Linked DNA regions of Homo sapiens: region 1 is linked to region 2. The links come from fine-mapping of genetic effects on plasma protein levels. A gene starts in region 2. The other region holds a variant in brackets. All regions are shown on one strand. Distances are between the middles of the regions.

What was found. A credible set is the group of variants that fine-mapping cannot tell apart. PIP is the posterior inclusion probability: the model's chance that the variant is causal. Sun 2018 read protein levels with aptamers (SomaScan).
Region 1: its variant is the best candidate, but not a certain one, in a credible set for the plasma level of the LRRN1 protein (Sun 2018, PIP 0.50).

Annotation. Positions count from the first base shown.
Region 1 is chr3:3,762,254-3,770,820 of GRCh38, reverse strand. The region is part of intron 5 of LOC100130207 (a long non-coding RNA gene); the gene reads left to right. Among named protein-coding and RNA genes, the nearest start is that of LRRN1, 33 kb to the left of the region's middle. The variant A/G (reference allele first, on the strand shown) is at 4,913.
Region 2 is chr3:3,795,490-3,803,948 of GRCh38, reverse strand. It overlaps LRRN1 (leucine rich repeat neuronal 1), which reads right to left and starts at 4,518. Exons shown (of 2, transcript NM_020873.7): 1 at 4,030-4,518. LOC100130207 (a long non-coding RNA gene) reads left to right here and starts at 3,074. Exons shown (of 6, transcript NR_149025.1): 1 at 3,074-3,248. RefSeq lists silencers at 1,370-1,664, 4,198-4,307, 4,448-4,537, 4,548-4,617.

The sequences.
Region 1 (8,567 bases), 33 kb after region 2:
ATTAGTTTTGGCCCAGTATAGCTGTCTGTGGAGATGTTTTTGAAACTTTATTTTCTTGGCCATTATACTGCTGTCTTTCTTAGAGTTGTCTGTTCTAAAGATTTTTTTGTTTGTTTGTTTGTTTGTTTTGCAGACATGTGTTCTGCATTTTAATCTGATGTATTGATCAAATGTTTAAGAGCAGTGATCCCTAAACAGAACTTTGTGTCACTATCCGAGAGACTTCTCTCCAATTCAATATTAATCTATTAAGTAACATTCATTAGGAATGATTTTTTAAATAAATGCTAATATCCATAACAATACGTGATTATAGAAGATTGTCATATGTTTTATAAAATTAAGATAAACTGTGTCTAAGCCCTTCCTTTGCTCTAAAAGCTTAGAAGTTCTCTTCAGGCTCTCGGTGAATATAGCAGAGCCAAAAGAGAAATTTTTGGAGTCAGAGCAGAGTTCAAACTCTGTGTCTTCCACTTCATCTAGGGAAGGGCTTCTCTACACCTCAGTGTGGTGGTGAGGGTTCTGTGGAATGAGGGGTACGCTAATAAAGCAATTACATACACACATGGCATTACTAATAGATTCTCCTATAAATGGTAGCTTTAATTATTACCAGTAATAAAATTATAAAGAAAGAAATGAGGTTAGCTTAGGGCAACTTATTCTCAGTAAATTCACACTGGCATCCAGTGGAGAAGAAATTTGTTTCTAAATATCCATATATCATTTTTTGATCATTGGTTCTTGTGGTTTGCATGGGTTTAATATCATGTATACTGTCCTGGGGTTTCTGCCGTCTATTCTTGGCTAAAGTTTGTTATCCCACATTTCTGACTCCAGTCCTTGTCAAATCTCCTATATACTGAAATTCTTAAATATTACTAATGGTCTTTTTATTTTCAGACCCCCTAGTCCTGCGTATAATTTTTTTGAGCATGTGAATATGAACACATGGAAGCAGCCAGATATTTCTGTATAATCTCCTGTGAGGCTTCTCTTCAGCTGAAAAATTGGATATGGGGTTAAGAGCTCTGGATCAGGAGTAAAAACCTCTAAATACTGGTGTTAATTTGCTTCTTAACTAGCTGTGTGACCTGAGATGGGCTGTTTAACCTCTCTTAACACTAGTTTTATTCCTTGGTAAAAATAATTGGTTTCTACCAGATGCTGTCCACGAGTTCCTTCTTGTTCTAAAATCTCATAATCATAAGCAATCTATTCAGAATATAAGAGAAACCCTTTGAAATGTTTATAGGGAGGGAACATGCATGGAACTATTCAGTAAACATACAAGTTTCCTGTAATGACTGAGAAAATTGTGGTGGCATGTATATTCTGTAGGAATTCAGAGAAGAGAGGGATTTATGGGTGTCATATTTTTGGGAATGGATTATCTGGAAGAAGTATAACCAAAAGAGAGAATAGAGATGGAAAAGGGTTGATATCGGAGATTGTTTTTAATTCTTGCAAAATGAAGATAAACTGTATCTAAGCTCTTCCCTTGCTCCAGAAGCTTAGAAGTTCTCTTCATGCTGTCTGTGAGTATAGCAGAGTCAAAAGAGAAATTTTTGGAGTCATACAGACCTTGGTTCAAACTCTGTGTCTTCCATTTCATCTAGGGAAGTGCTTCTCTACACCTCAGTGTGGTGGTGAGGGTTCCGTGGAATGAGGGGTGCGTCAATAAAGCAATTACATCTTGTTGATGTTTTAATCCTCTCCAGGATGAATGTTAGTATAAGATGGCTGCCGACCACTCTTTAGAATACTGCCTTGACCTGATCTCAGAAATGGGCAAGATGGTGCCAATTATTTCCGAGCACACCATTTTGAGACAATATATAATTTTAGTTGGAGTGAAACAACATTCAACAAGTATAGCTGTTTTGAAGTGGTCCTCTGGCCTCAGAAAATTTCTGAGTATTTCTTTTTAGCAACTTTTGAAGGCAAACAACTCAGATAATTGCTACTAAGTTTTTGTTTCTTAATGTTCAATCAAGGTTGAGAGAAAAAACTGTGGAGTAGTAGATGGCATCAGCTTAGGGTGCTCTTTTGAGGGATGCAATGAAATATGATGGTTGGGCATATAGGTTCTGGACACACTGGTTTTAACTGAATAAAGTTAGAGAAGTAACTTAACTTTTTTACCTCAGTTTCTTCATTTTTAAAATGGCCTTAATATAAAACCCATCACTATTTTGTTAGGGTGAAATGTGTTATTACCTACAGAGCTTACACTAGTTGTTGGATTAAAGTAAATGCCTACTAAATCTCATTTATTATTATTCTTAGAGTTTTTGTATGCTCCCACAAATGCATTCACATGTCGTTAAAAGAAAACAGGACTTTATGAAAACTGATGAAACATACTTATGAAATAGTATGAAATGAAAAGGAGAAATGTGAAAAATTCTGGGGGTTTCTCCAGGCATAAATTATGATACATGGGACCATTATATATCCTCCTTTATGTATAGGAGGAATGACTGGCCTCTCTGACAGTCAGTCCCATCACATCTCCTTACTTTTTGAATTGAAAATTGTTATGCAATTTTTAAAAAAGATCTTAGAATTTTGAGTGACCTCTCTGGACCTTAGAAATCATTGTATCATATGACTCTAATCAGTGATTTTATCATTTAAGATTAATTTGTTTATTATCATTGGAATGTCAAAATCTAAACATCGTTTTGCCTAACTTGTGAATTCATTTTAGTAGATCAACTGTGTAAAGGATTTCATTATACAATAAAATAATAGGAAATCTGTTTTAAAATGATTAAAAGGATTAGCTAAAGATGAATGTATTCCTCTAGGAGTTTCTGGCAGAAAAAAAAAAACACATTATTCCCATTAAATGGGTGTAATAGATCTTCCTCTTTCAGAATTTCTGCAACTCTTTCATCTTGCATTAACTCAGCTGTGGAAATCAACACCCAAAGGATGTAGTAGGGTGAGACATAACATGTGGGAATGAAGAAAGCATAAAAGGCATTTAAAAAACTAGGGGTACTGAGTAGAAAATTCATCTGCTACTGCAGGGAATCAACTAACTCATAAAGTGCTTCGTGCATTCTTCATTCTGTAGCAGAATTAAAAGCTAGTTCTTCAACTCTTTGTTTTCTTTTTGAAGGCTTCTGACAATCAATTCTCTGTCCACTCTTTTTTTTCCTCTCTCTCCATAACAATTGTTACTGGGGACAAAATAGGGTGCTGGAGGGGAACAGTAAAAAGAAATAATGGTTTGAACTTAGTTCAGTGTACGTTTAGTATAAGGAAGGAAAGCTCTTGGATGGTGAAGAGTGCTTATGCAGTGAAAGGCTCTTTGCTTGGTATATTTAAAATGGGATTAAGTAAAGTACTAGAAAACACATGCCATGCAACAATGCCACTTTGGCAGGAAGATGGCTTAGAGGCCTCCATAGAGGTTTTCCATCTTAAAGTTCTCTATTTTGGTAGCACAAGACATTAGTTCATCAAATGGTGGAGTGGAAATATTGTTTGCTTATGCAAACCGGCTAGATTTGAAGAATTGAAAACACAGCCAATAAGGAGCTACGACACAATGGTTTGTGTACAAAACTAAAAGACCTTGGTTTCACAGTGAGCCTCTTGCTGGCTGCCAGGCTTAGTTCTCTTCCAGGTAGGAAGTCACCTGTGAATTGATTAAATGTGGATAGACTCAACTTTGTTTATAGAGTTGGATGACACTGTAGAGAAGACACATGCAAGTATTTGTCACCAAAGTATTTATTTGTCAATCATTCTCTACTGTCTTTTTTTTTTCCCTCTTGAAATACAACTTGGCCTTCTCTGCAAAACCCATTTTTTTCTACTTGAAGGACAGATCATAGTTGAAAAGACACAACAAATTCCACATACTATCCTTCCACAAAAGGATTCAAAACCACTGAGTATCATGGAAAACAAATTTTTATAACCTTTTCAAATGTTTTGACTTGTAACATCCTTATGTTGGACTTAATTTTCACCTCCTGCCTGATTATCCATCTTCACCTTGACAGGAAGAGCGTGTTCTGCTCTGTGATCTTCTCTCTTAAAATGAGTGTGAAAAGTAAAGGCCACCTGTTACCATTTAGAAGTACAGTTTTTCTTTAAATCCACTTGACATTTCAAGCCTTCACATTTGCTACTTTGCAATAACATTTTCCTTTATGGACTATGTGGTTTCTAGAATGGTGCCATGTGGGTCAAAATCTAGCCAGGAATGAATGGTGTTAAAATCCCTAAGCTTGAGGTTGTTTTAGGTTTTCATCTCCTACAGGGGAAAGATTATACTATGTCCTTATGCAGAAATACATGAAGCAGATTTCTTCTTATATACCAGGTCTGATGAGTTGGAAATGACTGCCTGGATGGCTGCATTGAGATTGGCTATTTATGGACAGCCAAGAAAAAGTCTGCACCAATTTGGGATGTGTGTCCTGGGTTAGGGGTTGGGCAGTGTCCTGTATTAGCCTTTCCTTCTTTAGAAGCCTCTTCCAGGATGTCACTGCTATACTACACACCCCCACATTTTTAGCTGAGAAAGTAGCATGGCCATGGGTGTGTGGCAACAACTTCTGCCCTGCTCCTTCCTCCTCTTTCCCCTATATACTGCCTTAGACTGATGGATATTCGATCCCTGTGCATTTTCCAAACAAAGAGGGACAATTACTGGCCTGGATTGAAAAGCCCAGGCAATGTGATATGTGCTCATCAAGATAAACATATATCTGCAAGCCTTCCCTCTGAGCCTTAGGGGGGTCTTAGTCACCAAAGAAGTGCAGGTTGCAGCAGTATTTGCTCTTGGTGAATTTTCAGAGGCTAGGGTAATTCCACAGCCTGTAAATGGAGACAAGCTTCAGGCTGCAGACTGGGCAGCAGTTGTGGGCAGATAAGAGTGTGTCGTTCC[A/G]TGCCAGAGGTTAATGGGAATTGTCAGTGTGGTGGTGATTTTTCCAATCCTTTGTTCTCATTTTGACAGAGGTTGTGGTCTGAGCCAAACCTAGGATCCTATTTCCAAGAACACCTGTTGCTTCATGGATCAAATGTAAGAGATCCTTCTTGGGAACTCCTATTCCAAATAGCACCATGTCTGTCCGTCGCATACTGTCTACATTCCTGACATACGCTTTCCCCTGGCTGAGCCTTTGGTCACCAAATGGCTAATCTCTTTGCTGCATGTTGTTTTCTTGCAAAGCTTTAAAAATATTTATTTCCTTTTTGTTTCTGAGTAGTATATAAATATACCTAGAAATATATTTCAAGTCAGCACTTAAGTCTCTCTGCCGGCTTTAGCAGAGAGTTCTGTGTAATAATAATCCGTGAAGTAATCAAAGTTCAAGTTTATTTTAATATTTATATTTAGAATACAATCAATCAAATGCACATAAACACACCCACTCAGTACCCAAGTCTCCTCTCTCTCCATGACCGGTCTTCATGTGAGTCCAAACCCGGGAAAACCTGGCCCCTGAAATTATAAATCATTTGTACCCAGTCACTGAATGACTTGCATTAGTTTTCAGTAGATTTTTTTTCCTTCAGCTTATCTGAATAGCTGCAAATTACTTCTATTATTTTTAAAATGAAAATATTTAGTGGACCAATCTATAACATGACAGGTTCCATTTAGCCTAAAGAGAGCAATTTACAATAATAAGATCGTTTCACCTGGAAAAGAGAAAGGGCATCTTGAGAAAGTAAAAAGTCTTGTTGGCTTTGTTTTAAAGGTATTAGCATTGTGTTATTTGTTATCTCCTACAATAATGCCATATCCCACTTATTGAGTGTTCACCATGTGCCAAGCGTTGAGTTAATTTTGCATGCATGATCAGACTTAATCTTCACGGAAATTCCTGAGGCAGTTATAGATTTCTAGTTGATGGATGAAGATACTGAGTTGGAGTGAGAAAGGTGATAAAGCAGCTTACCAGAGGTCACACAGACAAGACGTTGAACTAGAATTTGAACTTAGGTCTTTCTGCTTCCAATGTCCTTGTTCTTTCCTGCTTCCCAATAAAGCAAAAGACCTGGCCTTCGAGCAAACAGTGTTGAGAGATCTCTTTCCAATTATTTAATATCTCAAGTCTTCTTAGTTTTCTGGGCTTGCCTAAGATCTTGAATATAAGTGTCCCTAACAAAAACGAGCCCTTGGTGAGAAGGGTATAGTGAGGGTCCATATCTCCTGGCCATCTAACTCAAGACATTTTCTGGATTTCACCACCTCTTGATAGGAGGTATGACATTGGCAAACCATTTCATAAGACCTTCCTTCGATCACCCTTCCTAGCCACCTTCCATCCTGCCCTCTTTTGTTGCAAAACTCATCTGCAGAGACCAAATCCCTCCTTAACATTTTATTGCACATTGTTTTGTTTTTTATCATGTTTCCCCAAATAGAACCTCTGTCCCTGGAGAAGAAGACTTTATTTCACTCACTGTTGTATCCTCAGTACCTAGAATAGTGTCGTCCATAGTAAACCCTTGCTAAATATTTGTGGGATGAGGGAATGAAAACATAAGGCTTAGTTAGACGGTTCCATTTTCTTGTGCTCATAGGCATTTGAAATTTAGCCAAGAGCCTCTCTCTTTCACATAGCGTATATGATGAGCTGTGGATACATTTTTATGTACTCTCGGGTTTTTGTTTTATAAAATAATTTAATGCATCATTAGTATAGTAATGTTTCATATTCAGGACATATCTATCTGTAAGCCCTGTCCTTTTGAAAACTCAAGCCAATTTGTAATTAAATACGCTTCAGAAATATTGCTGTGATTTATCAAGCAACATCACAGAGCTTGAAAAACATGTTTTCCTCACCTACCCTCTCAAAATGCAAAAAAAAAAAAAAAAAAACCCCATAAAAGATCCATTCTGTTGCATTGCTTGAGCTTTCTGTGAAACCTTTGAAACATTCATTACATTTAGGCAGAATGTGTACATGTTATCTCATGTCAATAGGTCCAGATTTCCCAAGTCCAAAAGGTAGAGGAGAAGAAACTCATGCTTCTACCAGGTTTTGGTGGCTTTGAAGGAGAGAGGAAAAATAGTTCTAGGGTTTTCTGGCTTTGGCTATTCCCTCTGCACAGCAGGATGTTTAAGGATTGGGAGTCAGGCTGCATTACAAACCTTCACAGGAAGCACTATTTACAACGGTGTTAAGTGTCAAATGGTTAAGAAAGTCCATGAGATCTTGTTGCTGGAGAGCAAGCTAGGAAGAAAATCTTTTTATATTCCTAATGTTAATGGAAATGATCTTTCTTGCACTTGGATAAGGGGGGAAATATTTCCTCTTATTTTACTTGCAGAAAGGGGGGCAATTCCCATATTTCATAAAGCCAGTGCATATCAAGTGATCTTCCCTGCTTATGTAGATGACTTATTCTTTTTTTTTTTTGTTTTTTGTTTTTTTGAGACGGAGTCTCGCTCTGTCGCCCAGGCTGGAGTGCAGTGGCGTGATCTCAGCTCACTGCAAGCTCTGCCTCTTGGGTCCATGCCATTCTCCTGCTTCAGCCTCCTGAGTAGCTGGGAGTAGATGACTTATTCTGAAAGGATTTTTCTCAGCCTTTCAGCAGGACTAGACATTCCACTGCCTTTTCTCACCTCCCCATTGTAAGCTTTTGATGTGTGACTCCTTCAGAAAGATCCAAATTCTCATTGACTACTTTTAAGTTAAAGTGTTTACTTAACAGCAAATGATCAATGTTGAGCTAAACAGGGAAGAAATCATCTGTATAGTTACATTTCTTTATATCTCCCAGCACATGTTTGCCTATTTTAAATGCTAACGTGGCAAGCTATGTTGGATAAGCATTCTGGGGTGTCCATGTGTTCGTTATTTTGCAGCATAAAGTGGAGATACTCAATCTTCGAAAATTGCTTTCTGAGATTGGATACTGTATCGTGTCTCGTAACTCATATTTGTTCTTAATAAAAAGGCATTACCCGAGGAATATTCTTGTTATTGCTGGATCAACTCGTTACGAGAAAAGTGGGTTAAGATATATTGACATTTATTCTTTTGGGAAAAGCTGTTCGTGTGTGTGTGTGTGTGTGTGTGTGTGTGTATGTGTTTATTATGCAGCTATTTAACAGTTAGATTGATGTCTTTAGAAAAGGAATGGCTCTTTTACAAGAAAGTCAAGTGTTAAGGGCATGACATGTCAAGGAAGGCAGATCTGGATTTGATTTTTGACTTTAGTTTTCCAGCTTTGGGCAAGTACTTAATCCTGCTATGCCTCCACTTACTTCCTCATCTACGAAATTGGAAAAATAATAACACCAGGTTTAACACAGATTTAGTATGAAGTTTAAATAATTGATTTGTGTAAAGCACTTACTACAAAGCTGAGCACATACTAAGTCCTCAGTTTATGTTAACTTTCGTTATTAGTTCAGTTGGCAAGTGAACAGACAGTGATGCAGACCAGGATTTGGAAAGGGATGGTCAGTGCCCTGTGGGTCCTAATTAATTAATGTTACATCCCCAGGGAAAACTGCTTTGAGTCCCTAAGTTAAGGTAAGCAGCCTCTGGTATACACTTTCATGGCATCTTGTACTTTTT
Region 2 (8,459 bases):
AATGTCAATAAACCATTTATCATGCATTTATCTATGTTTCAGAACTCGGGAGGCTACATTCTGTAACAGATCTGTAAAGCAGGTGAATGCTAATATATGCTAAAACAAGAAATTAAAAAGCAAACTTCACCTAAAAAGACCTTTAGAACAAATGGATCCCTTGGTCACTAAAGTATTGAATTTTACAGATAGGGTTTAACTTTTATCTCTATTCTGTACTTTGAGCCAAAACAAGAGAGAATAAATGTTTTTCTGACTTCATCCATATAATTTCATCCTGAATTAAATATTAATCAGAGCTCTATTCATGAGTTAAAGATACTTTCATTGTTCCCAGAAACATATGATTCTAAATGATCATATGATTCTACAATGGAATTTGCTTTATCTCCAGATTGGCTTAACCCAAAACAGATGTTCAGCATAATTTTTTAAAATTAAATACAATATTTGAATAACCTGACATTAGTGCTGAAATGAATCATTCGGGGAACTATTATTTTGTAACTTAAAAATAAATTTTAAGTAAGCATTGTGCAAGTCTCGTAAAACTGGCATCTGCATCCTATAATTTACCATATTTTATTTATGACTTATGGCCTACTTATGGTGGTATAAAAAGCCCACCATTCTGATTATTTATCATTATTATTTATATTCCACTGGCTTGGGAAGTAGCAATATAACTCCGTAGAGACCGATTTTCTTTAGTACCTAGTATATTCCCATGAGTGTCACTGCTTTAGAATATGTGGTAATGGCTCTAGCAGTTTAGATCAAGAAGGTGGCCTTAGCACAGACTAACCAGAGAGAGATCAATGGTTGAGTTTTTCCTTGCTTTCCCAGAATTTCAGACATTAACCAGAGCTAGCTGAGGTTATGTTTTAGAAACACAGTCTGCAGTTGGATCTGGTCTTGAGATCTTTTATTTAGCAGAATGATCCTTTTCTAATAATTAAACACTTTATCAGTTTTATTTACCAAGGAATGAGTTCTAATCTGTCCTTTCATTAGACTTGCAGAATAACGATTACACAGGCAGGTTAATTGCCAAAGATAAGGTTTCACAAATGTGAGGGTCATTTTTAACTTACCAGGTTTCAAAAATATCTAGATAACTTTACAACAAAATGGTTTATAGTCTAGAAATGTCAAGTTTATTTTAAGTTACCCTTCAACTCTATCAGGAAGACATCAGGCGTGTAGAGTCAAATTAAGAGTTTATTAGAATGATTTGTTACTTTCTGACTTCTATATAGCTCTAAGACACAAAATGCAAACTTGGCTATAACATTTTCTTACTTAAATTTGATTCAATTCATTTTTCCCCATCCTGTGAAAATATTGCCTTATGTATAAAAGGCACTGAACCTGCAAAAATAACTTAAAGGAACATGTAAAATAGCAGACTAACATCTGTTGTCCACCCCTCCCCCGAAACACTGAGCCCTCCAAAACAATGTTGTCTTTTTTTTCTGGCGGGGGTTGGGGGGGTGTTGTATTTTAATGTCCCTTTCAGTGAATATATAGAATACTGGGGCAAATGCTGTTCCGTGAATAGGTTCTTTTTCCCTTCAACAGTGTTTGAGGTTGACAAAAGAAGAGGCCACTGGGGCTGGTTAGTCGTAGGTATTAATATAATCGCCTGCCTCACGTGCGGCCCACACTGCCTGCCTTTTGTTCAGCTGTCGCACAACGCCAAGAGGTGAACAGTGCAGTGTGGTCACGCAGCTAATGTTAGACACGGCAGAAAGGCCCTTGCTCCAGAGTCTACTGCACGACTACCTCCCCGTTCACTGTTATGTGACCTGAAAACCACTCGGGTAACTAGGGTTGGGACAGTTGCATCACCTGCAGTTCTACAGTTTGGTGCCTTAAGAACCGAAATGACTTTGGCTAGACAGTGGACATTCTCAGCTAGACAGTGGACATTCTCAGGAAATCTTCATGTCGGTCAACGACAACGATCTTCTACTATAATGAATAGCTCTGAAGATGAGGACCAAATTTGAGCAAGAGTCAAATTATTAAAAGAAAACTCGAAAAGTTGAGGGGTCAATTCAGAAATCACTTCAAGCCGCCAGAAGTGGGTTAAAGTTACTGTCTGCTTCACACAAACCTTTTCCTAACTAGCTTAGAATATCCAGCTTGAATATTGCACGAATATATACAGCCAGGTAAAGAGCAAGCAGCACTTTGAGCTTTCAATACAATAGCACTTAAAGAATTTGGCTCCTGAATAAAGGTGTCAGCAAACCATGGAATTCCCAAACAGAAAAACTCACACTGCGTCTTTATTCTCTTTTCTTAAGGTCTATTGTTAACTGAAGACTCCTTGTCTTTTCAAATTCCTTCATGTGAATGGATGAGGCCAGACATCTGCCAGGATCCGCTCACATTTGCATGCAAATCAGAGACTTCGGGACACATATGGCCCTGGAGCCAATAACACTTTTACTCTAGATTTATACTGATCAAAGTGCCTTCCTGAACTTTCCACTCCTCCAGCCCTAGCTTTTAAAAATGAAATAATGAGCCTATTCCACTAACATGATTTAGATTGTCATGGCAAGACAAAACAAAACATGTTGTCTTTTAGAAAATCCTCCACGCAAAAGCCAGAGTCGGCAGCACCTGTTCCCTCACCCAATTAGAATTCCACTTTTCCTTTACGATTTAGGTTTGGGAATGAAAATACTTACGGCGGGATGGGATTTAGACTCTTAGCCTTTGCCTGTGAGCTTCAAGTGCTTCAGAACCATTTGTACCCCGGCCAGTCGTTCACTCACGGCCAGGCTCTGTTCTTGGCGCTGGGGCCGCGGCGGTGGACACGGCAAGCGAGGTCCCCTTCTCCTGGATCCGGCATCCGGGCCGAAGCGCCTGGTCCGCGTTTCCGCGCGGGCTCCCCTGGAACCGTCCCGGGACACGCGGCCCTCTCGCTGCTGGACTTTTCCCCGAGCCCCAGCTTGCCAGGCAGGGACTCCCTGGGCGGGCGGCGGGGAAGCGCCGAGTCGGCGGCCGCCCACACCCCTCTCCACGCAGCACAAAGGACACTCGCCGGCAAACTTTCCTCGCTTCTGACCCGGGCCGAGCCGGGAACTCAGCGCCAGCTCTGTTCCTGGCGGGGCTGAGGCTTCCCTCACATTCCAGGCCACCTGGCAAACGTCCTGAGGCTGCCACTCCTTCTGGGCTCAAGGCTCACGGGCTGAGGTCTGTCCCCGCGTGGAGCTCAAGGCTCACGGGCTGAGGTCTGTCCCCGCGTGGAGCTCAAGGCTCACGGGCTGAGGTCTGTCCCCGCGTGGAGCTCAAGGCTCACGGGCTGAGGTCTGTCCCCGCGTGGAGCTCAAGGCTCACGGGCTGAGGTCTGTCCCCGCGTGGAGCTCAAGGCTCACGGGCTGAGGTCTGTCCCCGCGTGGACCGCCGAGAGTTCGGTAGATCCTTCCCAAGGCTCTGACTTCAATACTTTCAGTGCCTTGTCAATTATACCCCTTGCCCCTTTCTCTTACCAAGGCCACCGCCAAGACACCCTTTTTCTTTCCTCTCCCCGTCGCCCGCCACCTTCCTTGCCCTCCTCTTGGCCCTCTTTCCAGCTCCCTGGGCCCCCTTTCCGCGCTGCTCTCCAGCCCCAGCTGCCTTCCCCGGTTCACATCCCGGCAGCCCTCCTCCCTCCCCGTCCCCGGGCACCTCCCTCCCCTGGTCGGCCCCTGAAATCCAGCAGGCTCGGCTCCGGTCACTGCCTTTTTTTGCCTGTTTCTATCTGGCCTGCCTTCCCAACTATCGCTCTCCCACACCTTTTTTTTTTTTTTTTTGGCAAGGGGGACGGGGGGAAACGGGGCACTATATTCTCGTTTCCCGACTTCGTCATTTTCCCCAGCTCCGTGAGCCGCGCCCCCTCGTCCCCCTCAGGCCCGCGATCTTACCCTGAGGTTCCCCAGACCCCGTAGGGTCTCCCACGCCACCAAGTTTGCCTCGACTTCCCCTCGCTGCCTCCCACACCTCCTGCCGCGGCGCGGCCGGCCAGGGACTTACCCCGAGGCCCAGCTGGTGGGGGTGTTGGGGTGCGCGCGGACCCGGCACCCACGGCGGCGGCGGCGGCAGCAGCAGCAGGAGGAGGAGAAAGACGAGGAGGAGGAGGAGGACTAGCTGAGCGGCGCCTCCTTCCCAGCCCGCAGCGCGCACTGGCTCCTTGGGGCACCCCCGGGAGAGCACCAAGACCGGAGACTAGGCGGCGACACAGGCAACCGCTGCTGCACGGGGCTGGGCTCAGTCGGCTCTCAGAGGCCAGGGCAGGGGGAGGCAGGACTGGGAAGGAGGGTCGGAGAAGTGGGGTGCAGAGGGCGGGGCAGCGAGCGGCCAGGTCCGGAGGAAGGCGCCCCAGGCGCCTAGGGATGCCGCCGCCCGGGCTGACGCCGTCGGCCCCTCTCCCCGCCAGGCGGGCGCTTGCAGCCGCGGGCGCACGGGCCTCGCCTCGTTCACCGGCTCGTTGCCGGCGCCCGCGGTGCGCCCCGCTTTGTGCTCCCCGCAGCCGGCGTGCACCTGGTGTAAGCAAAGGCGGTCAGCTGATGGGCCGCGCGCGGATTGGCTGCTCCGCCGTCTCCTCCCCTCCCGCCCGACCCTCTTCGCGGCCTCCCGCCCCCGCCCTCGGCGCGGCCCCGTGCTGGGCACCATCTGTGGACCGCCCAACAAAGGCGCAGCGCGGCGGGGCTCGGGTGGCCGGGCCGCGGTCGCCGCTTTTTGTCTAGGGGACGGCAGGCTGCGGCTGGGCAGGGAGGCGAAGCGCACTGCCGGTTTTTAGCAAAAGACAGACCAAAAGAAAATACACGTCCGTGCTAGGAGGCCAGCTAGGCACAATGGGGCCCCATCTCTTTGCGGCGTAGAACTCGGGCTCGGGGGCTGAGAACCAGACACAGTTCGGCCTGGGGCTGTGGGAGCCAAGTTTCGGGGTGAAATCCGACCCTGCGTCTTAAAATACAGGGCGCGTCCTCGGGCTGTGTGTGCGCGCCCGGGGGCGTCCTCCGCAGACCTGGCCCGGGCCGGTGTCCCTGCCGCGGGAAGGAGGATTCGGACGCTTAACTCAGCGGCGAAGTCGCTTCCCATTGGAGGAGGCTTTCCGAAAACGTTTCTGAAACTTTGAAATTACAGCTTTCTGATTTGTGAGGGGTGGAAGTTGTGTTTAAACAGGCGGCGAGGGACTGAGAAGGCAGTGTTAAGTGGAGGTGTCTCCGAGGAAGGGGAGGAGGGTGGGGACGGAATAGGTCTTCGGAAACTGCGCGTGAACCTGCGTCTCAGCTTCAAAGTCGCCAGCCGGAAGCAGGGCTTCAGAAAAGCCTTGGCACCCTTTATTGGGGGAATCGGCTTTAAGCGAAAGCATCATTAGCCCCTCAGTACTGAACAACTTCTGGCAGAGGAACGTGGTGACATTTCATTATGATGTCTAAACTTAGAACTTCTGGAGAATTTGGAAGGATACATTATTCGAGAATCATCCTTTGGATTCTTCAAAGCCACAGGATACATTCAATGTCAGTAACCATATTCTTGATCCCTGTAACATTTATTGGCGTTTCGCTTAGGTCTCTGATAAATGTTTGACGTCTTTGTGTGTCTTCACACTTTGTTATCCTGAAACTGTGTCATGTAGACATAAATGGTCACAGTTTGTCTTAAAAGTCTTTAGGAAAAGGTGATACTAGCACTTGGGCTAGAAGGTCGTGCAGAGCAGAGGAAGAAAAAGGCCCACTGCTGTCTACAAATGAATGGGAAGATTTAAGATCTTTCAAAGCAAGTTGAGTCTAGACCCTTGCCCAAGTTTTGTAACATGATTTTGTCTCTTTCCCCCCTTTTCATGCAGATTATCCATGGAGTTAGCATGCAGATAGCATGGAGTTTGTCTGATAGAAGTTGGGCTCTGGTGGAAGTACGGAAATTGAATGGTCAGGGAAAGATAGAATGCAGGTTTCTTAGGGAGTCTCTATTAGGTTTCCAGCCTGCCTTCCTGGGAGTGGAAGAGAGATGAGGTTGTGCCCTTCAAGGAGGAGCTTTACAGAGGTAGGTCTTGGAGGAGCAGTCGGAGCAATTAATGATGGTGAGAGTTGCTCTTGGGAGGCCAGATCTAGAACAGCCTCCAGGTTTTGGAAGAGACTTCATGAGAATGGTGTGAGTCAGGGACCAAGGTGTGAATTTTGAAACCAGGCCAACACTGCTTAGGTCCCAGCCCTGCAATTTATGAGCTGTGTCCCTAATGGCAAGTCACTTTATCTCTTTAAGGCTTAATTTCCTTGGCTCTAAAGTAGGGTTAATATCAGTACTTATCCCAAAGGATTGTGATGGTTAAGTGGGAGTAAACATGTAAAATGCTTAGGACAGTGCTTAGTATATAGTAAGCATTCAACGACAGATGTAAGCTCTAGGCATTATTAGGCAGGTATTGAAGACTAAAACAAGACATCAATTCAGACAGGTGGGATAATGATTCCGCATGTGACAGAATATCTCAAAGGCACTAGCTGCTCCAGTGGAGGAAATGGACTCTGTCTCTCCACTGTTCGATTCATTTCTTTTCAAATTAGCATATCATTTATTTAAACTAATTTCCCTCTTCCCCAAGGCAAGAGTGAGAAAGGCAGCTTTTCCCATTTCTACTTGACCACTGCATGCATTTGGTTCCAGACAGAGAGAAGAGCATTATCATTAGGAAGAAATGTGTGTCAGGGATGGGGGAAGGAATTTGGGTGAGAGGATGGGGCTTGCTGTGGACAGAAGAGGAAAAATGAGCATGACAATTATGAAAGAGTCTGAAATGTGGTGTAATTATTAGAAATTTGCTGAATTGCCTGAATTGGTAATTGGTCCAAATTTTAGAAATTACCCTTTTTTAACTCTGCAAAGGGGTTTCGGGACTGTCTTGTTAACTGACACTTAAAAGCTCCTTGTCATTGGGATGGATGAAGAGGAAACACGCATTTTTGCATCATTGGACGAAGAGGAATCAATGAACCAGCATAACCAAATCTCTTACTTGCTTCTTGCTTAAAGAGCTCAAATCCATCTGAATTACTCCTAATGAGCTCACCCAGTCCTGGGATCCTGAATTTATTAGTTAGTAAAAAAGCACTTAATAGTTATTTATTAAGGTGTGGTAGAAGACCTTGGAATTTTTGAAGGAGAACGGAATTGGAGACAAGAGCCCAAGAGTTCCCAGGAGAGCAAGGTCTTATTGTTGATGTAAAGAGTTCTTGCCCCTCGATTGGCTGTGTTGAGACACTACAAACCCCTCTGGATTCCCCTACCAGCCCCTTGAGGTTCTTTAGCTTTGGTTTGAAGGAACATTATCATTGGTGTTAGCCTAATTGTACTGATCTATGTGGTAAATGAGGAAAAAAAAGAAAGATGAAACTTCAGAAGACAGTCGTATTTGAATAATCTTTAGAAGAACATCTGTATTTTGAAAAGAAAATTATCATATGCCTCTTAAAACTGCAATTTTTCAAAGTTGAAAATATGTCTCTCTCTAATTGAAATATTAATAGAGTACCGGTAGTCAGAGTTCTTTCCAATTTCTGAACTGAAATTATGATTTTAAAACAACCACCACCAAGCTCTTAGAGGGTGATGACTGTAGCTTAAAATTTTGTGACTATTGTGATCATTGTTAACTTTCATACCAAATGTATTGTTTCTCTAAGAATTTTTGACAATGAGTGGGTTTACTACATATACGTAGTTCCTGTTCTTCTCGGGTTTTGTTTGTTTGTTTGTTTGTTTACTGCATATGAAACATCCCAACACAAAAAAGGGATTAATTGACGTTTCTGTAATTAAAACTAGTTTTTGCATTTAAGCTTAAAAATTTGACATAGAACTAAAGTGACCAACCATCTTAGTTTGCCTGGGAATCTCCAGGTTTTAGTCCTAAAAATCTCAACATCTCAGGTCACACCTTAGTCTTGGATAAACCAAGATGGTGGGCGGTTCTAAATAGAACTAACATTAATAGGTTTATGGTGCTGTTACAATTTTAGTTGAGTTGCAGCTTTGCAGATATATCAAATAATGTTTTATTCCTGACTGAATAAAGGGTCCTGTTTCCACTTGTAGAACTTAGTTGTTGCAGAGATGTTGACAGTCATTGTATTGGTCCATTTTCATACTGCTATGAAGAAATACCCAAGACTGGGTAATTTATAAAGAAAAAGAGATTTAATGGACTCATAGTTCCCATGGCTAGGGAGGCCTCACAATCATGGCAGAAGGCAAAGGAGGAACACAGGCACATCTTACATGGCAGCAGGCAAGAGACCATGTGCAGGAGAACTGCCCCTTAGAAAACCATCAGATCTTGAGACTTATTCACTATCATGAGAACAGCACAGGAAAAACTCACCCTCGTGATGCAATTACCTCCCACTGGGTCCCTCCCACGACATGTGGGGATTATAGGAGCTACAATTCAAGATGAG